Linked DNA regions of Homo sapiens: regions 1, 3 and 4 are each reported to be linked to region 2. The links are microRNA targets in miRTarBase. Many come from high-throughput screens and were not tested one by one. Region 2 holds a microRNA gene; each other region holds the end of a gene's coding sequence.

Region 1 (3,179 bases), not on the chromosome of region 2:
GCCATTGCACTCTAGCCTGGATGACAAGAGCGAAACTCCTTCTCAAAAAAAAAAAAAAAAAAAAAAAAAAAACCGGTGTGGTGGTACATGCCTGTAGTCCTAGCTACTTGGGAGGCTGAGGCAGAGAATTGCTTGAACCTTGGAGGTGGAGGTTGCAGTGAGCCGAAACTGCCACTGAACTCCAGCCTGGGCAAGAGAGTGAGACCCTGTCTCAAAAAAAAAAGGATTTCACCATGTTGCCCAGGCTGGTCTCGAACTCCTAAGTTGAAGTGATTTGCCCTCCTCAGCCTCCCAAAGTGCTGGGATTACAGGTATGAGCCACCACACCCTGCCTGGGCCTGATAATTTAAGGGCGCTCACAGCTCTCAGATTAAACGTTTCTTTTCTTTCTCAGGACTCCTTCCGCCCACCCATTCCTCCTCCCGAGTCCTTTCCCCTTCTCAAGTGCAGCCTGTAGCAGGGCCTGGAGGGGACCCTTGACACTGTGCCCCTCACCGAGAATCTAAACCCCTGACCCCGCAGTGAGTTTCTGGCAAGAACAGGAGTGTGATGGGCTTTGCCAAGCACCAGCTTGGTTGTGGGCTGTTTCCTTCAGTGACTGTTTGGCTTTTTGTCTTTGCAGGTTCTGCTTGGATTCTGCTAGACAGACCCGACAAAGACTGTCTATCAACTGGTCCAATTTTAGCTTGAAAAAAGCCACCTTTGCTGCCCACTGAATGAGGACTCCCTGGAGAGGGACACGCGAGAGGCAGGCCAGGCTGCACCACCCCAAGAGCCACGCCCCTCGCTGGCGCCCCAGAGCCGTGGTGCTTGCCAAGGGCTGTGCGGAGCTGGTGCTGCCTGAAACCCCAGACCGAGAAGTTGATGCTCGGCCCACGCCGTTAGCTCGTGTGCGTGTAGTCTGTGCGTGAGACTCCTTCGATTGTAGCTCTGTGCTGTCGGATTGGAACAGTAGTTCCCGCCAAGTCCTCCCACCACCGCGGCCTCGGAGGCCTGGGCCGTGGCCAGATAGGAGTTTGCATCATCCACGTGGCTCCGTTGCCTCTGCATTGCGCCCTGTCCTGTCATGTGTCCTCACCGGGGTATCGGCCGTCACTCAGCTCTCCTGTGCCCCTGCGTCTCACCCTAGGCGGGCTGGGCGGGGCAGGCCTCCTTTGTTCTCCACAATCTACTGTCTCCGAGTGTACACGTTGCGCTGTTTGTGTTTGATCCCCCTGACTTGTAGCCAGCTTGTGTAAGATCCCTTGCAGAACGAGAAAGTTAAAAACAAGCCCACCCAGTACTCACACCATCAAGTCTGTTATAGAGTGTACGACTGTATTAACACGGAGGCCTGCCTGGCTACTTTTTTAACATATTGTTAAGTAATATTAAAATCATGTCTTTCTTTTTGAAAGATGGAATACATTAGTACAGCAGGAGACCTCGGCTGCTTCTTTCTGCTGGGGGAGTGGGGGGATAGCGGGAGAGGGCGTGTAGGTGATGTGTCCGCCATGGGGAGCCAGGGCACCACCCCGGAGCAGGTCCCAGGTCTCTCCAGGCAACGGCTCACCCATCCTGGTGCCCCCACCATCCTCTGTGTGCCAGGCAGAGCAGGCAGCAGGAGACAGAAAGCTCCCAAGGAGCTGCATCCTGGTTACTTCTTACTACCTAGAACACTCAGTAGCTCCCACTTCTCCCAGCCTCATGTTCAGCCTGTCTCTGTGTGCCCTATCAGAGTATGACTTCACTCTGAGTGAAGGTGAATAGGGCAGGGCCTGGTTGGGGAGAGGGTAGGGAGAGCCAGCTTCTGGAGGTATTCGGACGATGAGGCCACAGGATTTCCTGGTGGACAGGATGCAGGTAGGAGAAAGAGGTGAAGACCTGCGCTGTGTGCCTGGAGGTGGGACTGGAGACCAGTTCTGGATGGTGAGTCTGGGATGTCCACCGGCCACCCAGGTGAGAGGTCTGGAACTGGGGACTGCTGTTCATGGACAGAGCCTGTGTGAGGGCCCTGCAGGGGTGAGTAGATGGGATGGGGGCCCGAGCTGTGGAACCAGGAAGGCAGAGGAGGGTGAGGAGGCTTCGAGGCAGGTCAGGGGAGACAAGGCCCAGGGCACCCCCACCCAGGCACCGGTTTGCAGGAGAATGAGGTGGGGACAGCAGGTCCTAGAACTCTGGAGATTGCACGAAAGCTGGAAAAGGGTCACCAACCAGGGGAGGTGCAGCACGACGAACTTTCCTCACTTGTTTTTTTTTCCAGGTGTGAGGAAGAGAACGTTCCTTTGTTCGTGGGATGATAGGGCAGAGAGTGAAGCAGGTCAGGCCATGACCACGGCAACAGTAGTGTCCTTGAAACCCCAGTGCAGGCCCCCGGGACTCCAGCCGCTGCCTCTTCTGGCTGCGGTGGTGGCTGGGGAAAGGCCCAGGCCCGGGCCTCGCCCTATGGGGAAGCTGCCTGCCCAGGCCCCCAGTACCTGCCCTGCTCTCCCCATGGACAGCCTTTAACACTGTGCTGAACCATGCCTGTTGCTGAGGGGAACTGCACAGCCCTGAGTGGTGATGGGGAACTCTGGGTGCCCCGACACACTAAGCATCATGCTGGGACCTAGAGACCCTCAGACGCCCACCGCACATGCCCAGTTCTGGGCACTCCCATCACCTCCATGGCAACCCTGCCTGCGGCTTCACAGCTCTGCCCGCTCTGGCCCCTGACCTGCACCTGCTAGCTTTGGCCCTCAGGCTCCCAGCCATTGTCCTGGCCATGCCCTTGCCAGGAAGGATCTTCCTCTATTTCCCTGGAAACCACTCATCCTTCCAGCATCCCAGGGTGCTTATAGGACATCCAGCTCCAGGGTCCCTGACTTGATGGGAGCCCCTGGGGTTCCTGATGACATCACTTCCCTGTGGGGGAGGGTGGGGCCGCCATAGGGGAGCCTCACATTTTTGACTCACACAGTAGCACAGGGTGAGTATCCCTTATCCCTTATCTGGCATCCTCAGTACCAGAAGTGTGTCCAGTTTCAGACTTTTTTGGATTTGGAGTATTTACATCATGCTTACCAATTGAGCATTTCTAATCCAAAAATCTGAAATCCAAAATGCTCCAATGAGCATTTCCTTGGAGCATCATCTTAACACTCAAAAGGATTTGAATTTTGGAACCTTTCGGGTTAGGCATACTCAACCTGTAATAGTCA
Region 2 (3,151 bases):
TTACAAAGAATTCTACATGTACTATCGTTCTGGCATAGAATTTCCACACATTTCACATAAAATCCCTTGTCTCTAACTAAAGAAAACTTTTTTCTTAGTAGTGAAATAAATGTGTTGAGTGTCTACTGGTATGCATATATCAAGAATTTTAGAGACACTAAATTTTTAGACATGTGATAAGAATCATCTGACTAAAATACCTTATTTCCTTATCTTGAGGGTCCTATGGAGTCACTATTATTACTCTAATTTTACATTTGTGTAAACTGTGGCTCAGAGGTTAAATGACTTAAGAACGCACCAGTAATGAGATTTGACCATAAGTTTTACTTTGAAGCTCATGCTTTTCCCAATAAAATATGCTGACTTCCACAAGTCTATGGATCCAATGACACATTTACTGTGACTGCTTTAAAGAGTTAGGTTTGCAGGCCCAGAACTCAACATTATCTGTTTATTTCTTTATTATTAGTTTTGTGCCAGGGATTTCACCAAAGACATTTATAATGCAAAAACTATAATTATTTGATATCTCTTTTGCATCAGGGTAGAGTTTCAAAAATATGTATTGAGAACCTACTATGTGTCACACTCTAAGGATACAGTGGTTATCCCTAACAAGGTCCCTAACCCTCAAGAAGCTTACATGGTAGTGCGGGAGAAAAGACACTAAGCAAGTAAACAAATACGTTTCAGGGAGCACCAATGTTTCTGAAAAAGCAGAGTAATGGGATAAAGGGTGACTGAAGTGCTGGAGTATTTTAGATAGCATGGTCACAGAAGGCTTCTCTGAGGAGATGATATCCTCGCTGAGGCCCAAATGATGAGAGAAAGGTAGGCAAGCTAAGAGGCAAGAACATCCTAGGTGTGTCCAAGGAATAGCCATACAGGCCAATGTGGCTAGCATGGAGTGAATTCATGGTAGGACACAATACATAGCAGGACAGGAAGTAAGGAAGGTGAGAAAGGCCATGTCATGGAAATCCACATCCAAGGAAGGGCGCACATACACAGCAATACACGAAGGACTGGCATGCAGGTGGCCATGGCTGCTGTCAGACAGGAAAGATGGCAATATGTTGGCATAGCAGGTTCCCAGTTCAACAGCTATGCCAGCATCTTGCCTCCTCTCCAGTTCCAAGTTACAGGAGAATACTATGACTCTTCAGTGTTTTACTTTTCCAAAATTTTTCCTTTCACCTGAGGGAGGGAAAACACACTCATTAATTGAAAGCGCACTTATTTCTGATCATAACAACATAGTCTTCCTTAGAGTGTCCGCTTTTGAAGATGTAGTTAGGCACAGGAGGTTTGTGGGTAGTTCCATTTTTTTAATGGTCTTTGATCTAAAATGAACCTCGAGAATGTTTATGGACTACTTGTGAAACCACAGGGATGAAATTGTGACAAAAATTTTATTAAATCAATAATGTCTAAAGTTGATGACAGTTAATTATAGGCTATTACCACCATATTTATAGTCCACAAAATATCCCAGTGACTCTCAGTACAATTTTATTTTTACTCTAATAACTTTACTTGGTCAATTTCTGCCACTCAGATGTATTTAAACAATAACAAACTGTGGCTCAGCAGTGTGTAGTTAGTTCACTGCTTTATGTGCTCTTAAAAATAATGTTATTTTTGGATTTTTTTAAAGACATTCTTGCTCTGTCATCCAGGATACAGTGCAGTGGTGCGACCATAGCTCACTGCAGCCTCAATCTCCCAGGCTCAGGTGAATCCTCCCACCCTAGCCTCTCAAGCAACTGGGACTACAGGTGTGTGCCATCACTCTTTTTTTTTTTTTTTGTATTTTTAGTAGAGACAAGGTCTCGCTATGTTGCCCAGGCTGGTCTCAAACCCTTAAACTCAAGCCATACTCCTGCCTCCACTTCCCAAAGTGTTTGGATTACAGGCATGAGCCACCATGCCCTGCCAAAAATAATGCTCTTTTGAGCCAAAAATTCCCAGCTAGAAACTTATTTCACAAGTACATTTGCAAAAGTACCACTAAGTTCTAGGTCCAAGGATGTTCACTGCAACACTGTTTTTAATAGTAAAAGATTGGAGACAACTTGAACACTCATCAGTATGATTGATACAGGCTAAATAAATAATATAGTTATACAACAGAATATTTGGTGGTCCTTACAAAACAGTAAGGCATAAGAATAATGACATTATGTATAACTTTTGTGCAAGTGAAAATGTATACACAGACACATACCTGGAGGGCATACATACATGTTTTTTATTAAAGGATAAATGAGCAATTTATTATTTTAAATAAAAAAATTGGATAGGATTATAAATTATGTTTGCTTTCCTCTTTAATATGTCTCTATTAAAAAACTAGTAAGTAATACGTATTATTTACCCAAAATGGAGTGTAAGGTAACCTATAAAGGTAAAACATTTTGTTATATAGTGCTACCAAGGTATAGATAAGGAAGAAGCATACTCTTTTAAATATGATTCTAGTATCAATTGCCTTTGCCAGAAACAAAAGTCCAGCATTACCTAAGCCTGGTACTAGATATACACATATGCAGTCACCCACGCATATACAGTATGTGGTGTCTGTTCTTGTGAGGGTAGGAACTTATGAGTGTTCTATTGCACAAAAGCCTGTAACATCTTGTCCTGAGGCTAGGTAACTTGTGGAAGAGGTACTAATTGACTTCCTAGGATACAATTCAACTTAATTGCATGATCTATTAATGTAAGGGTATTTAGGAATTTGGGGATCATTAAGTACAGAGCATTGAATCAAAATTAATGGCAAATGCAAAACAGGTTAGGTAACAAAATTCTGAATTGAGAAGATTTAACTGAATAAAGCTTCTCCAATAAACTCATTATTTTAAAAAATATTACTAATATCTGATATTCATAATTAAGAGGCAGGTACAAGCTGCATCATTTTAGAAGGTATATGGTACATATTTGAAAACAGTAATTTCTTGTGACTTTTTTCAGTTCCATTTTGCACATAAAAATTTCAGATTCAAGGCCAGGCATGGTCTTGAGTACATCTCAGAACTTTTGAAGGCCAAGGTGGAAGGATCACTTGAGGCCAGGAGATCAAGATCAGCCAGAGAAATATAGCAAGATTCCATCTCTACTAAAAATAAAAATAAATTAGCCA
Region 3 (3,179 bases), not on the chromosome of region 2:
AAAAATTCTCAATAAAACACTGGCAAACTGAATCCAGCAGCACATCAAAAAGCTTATCCACCACGATCAAGTTGGCTTCATTCCCGGGATGTGAGGCTGGTTCAACATATGCAAATCAATAAACTTAATTCATCACACAAACAGAACTAAAGACAAAGACCACATGATTAACTCAATAGATGCAGAAAACACCTTCAATAAAATTCAACATCCTTTCATGTTAAAAACTCTCAATAAACTAGGTATTGAAGGAACATACTTCAAAATAATAAGAGCCATTTATGACAGACTCACAGCCAATATCATACCGAATGGGCAAAAGCTGGAAGCACTCCCCTTGAAAACCAGCACAAGACAAGGATGACCTCTCTCACCACTATTCAACATAGTATTGGAAGTCCTGGCCAGGGCAATCAGGCAAGAGAAAGAAATAAAGGGTATTCAAAGAAGAAGAGAGGAAGTCAAAATGTCTTTGTTTGCAGAGGACATTATCCTATATCTAGAAAACCCCATTGTCTCAGCCCAAAAGCTTCTTAAGCTGATAAGCAACTTCAGCAAAGTCTCAAGATACAAAATCATTGTGCAGAAGTCACCAGCATTCCTATACACCAACAACAGGCAAGCAGAGATCCAAATCATGAATGAACTCCTACTCACAATTGCTTCAAAGAGAATAAAATACCTAGGAATACAGCTAACAAGGGAAGTGAAGGACCTCTTCAAGGAGAACTACAAACCACGGCTCAAGGAAACCAGAGAGGACACAAACAAATGGAAAAATATTCCATGCTCACAGACAGTAAGAATCAATATCATGAAAATAGCCATACTGCCCAAAGTAATTTATAGAGTCAATGTTATTCCCATTAAACTACCATTGATATTCTTCATAGAATTAGAAAAAACTATTTTAAAATTTATATGGAACCAAAAAAAGAGCCTGTATAGCCAAGGCAATCCTAAGCCAAAAGATCAAAGCTGGAGGCATCACACTACCAAACTTCAAACTGTACTGTAAGGGTACAATAACCAAAACATCATGGTACTGGTACAAAAACTGACACATAGACCAATGGAATAGAATAGAGAACTCAGAAATAAGATTGCACATCTACAACCATCTGATCTTCAACAAACCTGAGAAAAACAAGCAATGGGGAAAGGATTCCTTATTTAATAAATGGTGCTGGGAGAACTAGCTATCCATATGCAGAAAATAGAAACTGGACCCATTCCTCATACCTTATACAAAAAATTAAGATAGAATAAAGGCTTAAATGTAAAGCCCAAAACTATAAAATCCCTAGAAGAAAATCTAGGCAATACCATTTAAGACATGAGCATGGGCAAAGATTTCATGATGAAATCACAAAAGCAACTGCAACAAAAGCAAAACTTGACAAATGGGATCTAGTTAAATTAAAGACCTTCTGCACAGCAAAAGAAACTATCATCAGAGTGAACAGGCAACCTACAGAGTGGGAGAAAATTTTGGCAATCTATTCATCCAACAATGATCTGATATCCAGGATCTACAAGGAACTCAAACCAAGTTACAAGAAAAAATAGAACCGCATTAAAAACTGGGCAAAGGACATGAACAGACACTTCTCAAAAGAAGACATTCATGCAGCCAACAAACATATGAAAAAAAAGCTCAATATCACTGATTGTTAGAGAAATGCAAATCAAAACCACAATGAGATATCATCTCACACCAGTCAGAGTGGCTATTATTAAAAAGTCAAGAAATAACAGATGCTGGCGAGGCTGTGAGGAAATAGGAACGCTTTTACACTGTTGGTGGGAATGTGAATTAGTTCAACCATTGTGGAAGACAGTGTGGTGATTCTTCAAAGATCTAGAACCAGAAATGCCATTTGACCCAGCAATCCCATTACTGGGTTTATACTCAAAGTAATATAAATCATTCAATTACAAATATATATGCACACATATGTTCATTGAAGCACTATTTACAATAGCAAAGACATGGAATCAACCCAAATGCCCATCAGCAATAGACTGGATAAAGAAAATGTGGTACACATACACCATGGAATACTATGCAGCCACAAAAAGGTATGAGATCATGTCCTCTGCAGGGACATGGATGAAGCTGGAAGCCATTATCCTCAGCAAACTAATGCAGGAACAGAAAACCAAACACTGTAGGTTCTCACTTATAAGTGGGAGCTGACCATGAGAACACATGGACAAAGGGAGGGGAACAATGCACACCAGGGCCTGTTGTGGGGGTAGGGAGAGTATTAGGAAAAATAGCTAATGCATGCTAGGCTTAATACCTAGGTGATGGGTTGATAGGTGGAGCAAACCGCCATGGCACATGTTTACCTATGTAACGAACCTGCACATCCTGCACATGTACCCCAGAACTAAAACTAAAACTAAAATAAAATAAAAGCACATTTTACTTAAGAGGTATTTTTGAAACCTCAATGCAATCATCTCATTTTACATGAAAACTCTGAGCTTAGAGAGGTACAAAAACTTGCTCATGGTCATAGCACTACTTAGTTACAGCACCTGGTCACCTGCTCCCAATTTCATAATCATTTCATCAGATATCAGTATGAATTTTGAGAAAAATAAACAACAACAAATTGAGTATTTTTCAAGAATAAACATTTCCTATATTAATCTGATATAAAAAACACTTCACATTATTTCAAACTAGTCAATAAATTAACATTATATACCAAAATAGCAATAAGTTAACAATCCCTTCTTTCACATTTTAATCAAGTATATTCTCAAAAGTCTTACAATATTACATTAAGATTTAATGTATCAAATCCAACAGCATTTCATCTCAATATTTAACAATATTATGTTCAATATTGAATAGTAAAAAGAAGCTAAACTTTATCTCTTTGTGTATTGATTTCAGCAATTCTGACAGTGTTTGATCCTCCATGCACGTGTTTCTACGCATCAAGAAAGCACAGCTACAAGGTTAACCCAAAGAACAATTTAAAAGCTATTTCAATGGCAATTTCTGTGACTGAGTCATGAAAACAGACATAAAGTTCTTGAGGTTTTGGATGAAGAAAAAGTCTCCTGCAGAAGAAAAGAACACACTCATTTCAGAAATTAAAACAACAAACAACAAAAACTCTAACCATCCAATTAATTTAATTTTTGTTTCTGAAAGCATC
Region 4 (3,179 bases), not on the chromosome of region 2:
CTCTACTAAAAATATAAAAATTAGCCGGGTGTAGTGGCGCGTGCCTGTAATCCCAGCTACTCGGGAGGCTGAGGCAGAAGCAGAAGAATCGTTTGAAAACCCGGGAGGCAGAGGTTGCAGTGAGCCAAGATCGCACCACTGCACTCCAGCCTGGGTGACAGAGTGAGACTCTGTCTCAAAAAACAAAACAACAAAAACAAAACAAACAAACAAAAAAACACAATGATTTTATTTAGCTCAATTAGCTCATGACCTTGCGGGTCACTGGGCAATTCTAGCGTGGGCCAGCCTGGGTCAGATGATCTAGGGTGGCCGCTCTCGAGTATCTGCAGTTAGCAGGCTGTTGGCTGGGCCTCCGCACTTCCGCACATTCTTTTCCCTACGATCCCCTCCCTCTTTGAACCTGGTTTTGCTCAGGAGTCACTACCCCTCCATATGACGCATGAGCTCCACTTAGCTCGAGGAGTGCCATGGTTAGTGTAAGCACGTGCCCCATGAATGTAAGCTGGTGATTGGTCAGAAACGGCAAGTGATGCAGTTCTGACCAGTGAGATGTGTGGGAAAGTCGGTCAGGAGCGCTTCTGGGAAAGCTTCCTCCATCCCAAGAAAGAAATGTGGGAGCACCATTTTTTTTTTTTTCGAGACGGAGTCTCGCTCTCTTGCCCAGGCTGAGTGCAGTGGCGGGATCTTGGCTCACTGCAACGTCCACCTCCCGGGTTCAAGCAATTCTCCTGCCTCAGCCTCCCGAGTAGCTGGGACTACAGGCACGCACCACCACGCCCCGTCTCTACTAAAAATTTTTGTATTTTTAGTAGAGACGGGGTTTCACCATGTTGGTCAGGTTGGTCTTGAACTCCTGACCTTGTGATCTGCCCACCTCGGCCTCCCAAAGTGCTGGGATTACAGGCGTGAGCCACCGTGCCCAGCCGGGAGTAACTTTTATTGTGGGCTTATTATGCCAGGCGCTGCTTGTTCTAATTGCTTTATACAAAATAAGTCATTTAGTTCTCATAAGTTAGGTACTATCATTGTCCCCCATTTCACAGATGAAGAATCTGAGGCATAGAGTGGTTAAGAAACTTGCCAAGGGTCAAACAGCTATTGAGTGCTGGAGCCAGGATTTAATTCCAGGCAGCCTGACTCCAGAGTTCTGAGTTCTCAGGTACTACAATGACCCCTGGCTTCTTCCTCTGGTCATGGACCTCTTTAATGTGACACCTGCTGTAGCCATTGGGCCAGCAGTCTCGAGACAATACAGCCAAGAGACAGAAGGAGCCTGGAGAGCCGGGGTCCCTGTGCGCAGCTTTGGGAGTTGAATGGACCAGCACTGAAGCCCACCCTATCTGCTGACTTCTTGTTTTGTGTGAAACATATTTCCATCTTGTTGAAGCCATTTTGACTCAGAAAGTACCCTAATAGAGACACTGCTGCTGCCAGAAGAAACAGAAGGAGTGCAGGAAGACCCACTGGGCTCCAGGTAATCTGTTCTCACAAACCACTCAGCCCAGGTTAAGACACAACTCTACGGCCTTTCACCATGGGGGCCAGTTTTGAAGGCAGGAAAAACTGGTAAGAGATCGTTGGAAAGGATGGAAGAAATTGCAGAGAAAAATAAAATTATTTCATAATTCTCCTTTATTAGGCACAGGTAAACATACATACTCATGGTATCCAAAACCTAGAGTATGGACCTGGGATTGTGGACCCCAAGTGTCCCCAGAAGAGTCCCACCTGGGACTTTCCAGGTGGCCACAGGACAGACCCTGCCTAATCCTGTCCCTCAACCTTGGTGCTCAGGTCAGAAGCCCCATGGTTGACAGGCCTGGACCCTCATTCCAGAACAGTCTTGAGTTAGACAAGAACTAGCCTCATAGTTTGGATTCTTATCTCTGGCCCAAATCCCAGGCTTAGGCCTGGAAGGAGAATCTCTTAATCAAGAGGACAGAGATGCTGGGAACACAGTTCCCAGAGTGAGCTGGGCTTGGGTCCTGAGTTGCAGGGGAGAGGCCTGGAGCCTTTGGCACAGGGATACCTCCCTTTCTCTGAAAAGGTACAAGATACAAAGGCAGCTGGTTTGTTTGTGAAAGGGATTGTCCTTGGACAGAGGTGCCTGAGCACCAGCATCAGTGGAGGCCGACACTGGTACAAAGTGTACCCAGTGTAGACAGTGACCTATGGTCATGGAAAAGTGTTGTCAGCTCAAGGATGCCAGTTTGTCATCTCTGTGAGCAGGGAATATTGTCTCCTTTGCTCACTGCTGTACTCCCAGCACCGAGAACAGGGCTTGGCACCTGATAAGCACCCAAGCAGGAACTGCATGTGTGTGGAACAAAGCAGATGTGTACACAGCACACTCCACACAGGCTTCTGCCTTTCTCCCTTCTGGAAGGCACTGAAGGTTTGGCTCAGTTCAGAGGCAGGAGAAGGCTTGGAGCTACCCCCAAACTCAATCCACTGTTGGCAGCTGAGCGTGTAGTAGGGTGGTCCTAGCCATACAGAACCACTTCTCTGTCTCCCTCCTCTTCCCTGGCTTCGTCCAGCCCCAGTCCATCAGGGACCACCTGGGCAGCCTCCCAGAGATGGGATCGGGTTGGGGCTAAGGGCATCGGGTCCTGTCGCAGCCAGGGGTGCAGGAGGATGCCTGTGGCTGTGAGCCGTTCAGCTGGCTCCCGACGAAGGAGGCAGCGAACCAGACAGCGGGCAGGGGCCGAGAGGCCTGCAGGCAAGGCGTAGGCCCCGCGGCGGATCTTGCCGAAGAGCAGGACAGGCTCCGAGTCCTGGAAGGGGTAGTGGCCGGCCAGCATGGTGAAGAGCGCCACGCCCAGGCTCCAGACATCGGCTGCCTTGCCCGAGTATGAGGCCCGTGAGCTGAGTATCTCAGGTCCCACGTAGGCTGGGCACGCGTGCTTGTCCCACAGGGAATCATCTGGCCCAGTCAGCACGCAGGAGTCCTCCAGGTTCTCCAGCACCAGCTTCTTCCTGGGACATGGGGAGAAACAGAAGGGTCAGGTCCTACCCAGAACCCCCATGCCACCACCCCATGCTATCACCCTTGTGGCACCCACTTTCCAAGTGCCTGCTGGCCTTTGACAGACACAAGCCAGTCCTGTGATGTCTGATCCTGTTTTACAGATACCCAAGCCCAGGCTCAGAGAGGTTAAGTCATTTAAGGCCACAGA

The links. Region 2 holds the annotated microRNA hsa-miR-31-5p (AGGCAAGAUGCUGGCAUAGCU, at 1,106-1,126, opposite strand). A microRNA usually pairs through its seed, bases 2 to 8, with sites in the 3' UTR of a target mRNA and lowers its output. Matches are read on the target gene's strand: a 7mer-m8 pairs with bases 2 to 8, a 7mer-A1 pairs with bases 2 to 7 and ends in A, and an 8mer does both.
Region 1: the mRNA of FAM193A is a reported target of hsa-miR-31-5p. Seed matches in the 3' UTR shown: 7mer-A1 at 810-816.
Region 3: miRTarBase lists INTU as a target of hsa-miR-31-5p. Seed matches in the 3' UTR shown: 7mer-m8 at 417-423.
Region 4: miRTarBase lists TRIB3 as a target of hsa-miR-31-5p. The part of its 3' UTR that is shown has no 7-base or 8-base seed match.

What each region holds. Positions count from the first base shown.
Region 1 is chr4:2,731,153-2,734,331 of GRCh38, forward strand. It overlaps FAM193A (family with sequence similarity 193 member A), which reads left to right. Exons shown (of 21, transcript NM_001366318.2): 21 at 623-1,421. The coding sequence ends at 716. Among named protein-coding and RNA genes, the nearest start is that of TNIP2, 24 kb to the right of the region's middle.
Region 2 is chr9:21,511,053-21,514,203 of GRCh38, forward strand. It overlaps MIR31 (microRNA 31), which reads right to left and starts at 1,133; the gene lies at 1,063-1,133. All of the region lies in intron 1 of MIR31HG (MIR31 host gene), which reads right to left.
Region 3 is chr4:127,716,227-127,719,405 of GRCh38, reverse strand. INTU (inturned planar cell polarity protein) reads right to left here. Exons shown (of 16, transcript NM_015693.4): 16 at 1-3,081. The coding sequence ends at 2,970. Among named protein-coding and RNA genes, the nearest start is that of SLC25A31, 13 kb to the left of the region's middle.
Region 4 is chr20:395,998-399,176 of GRCh38, reverse strand. It overlaps TRIB3 (tribbles pseudokinase 3), which reads right to left. Exons shown (of 4, transcript NM_021158.5): 4 at 1,618-2,979. The coding sequence ends at 2,487. Among named protein-coding and RNA genes, the nearest start is that of RBCK1, 11 kb to the left of the region's middle. RefSeq lists an enhancer at 1-175.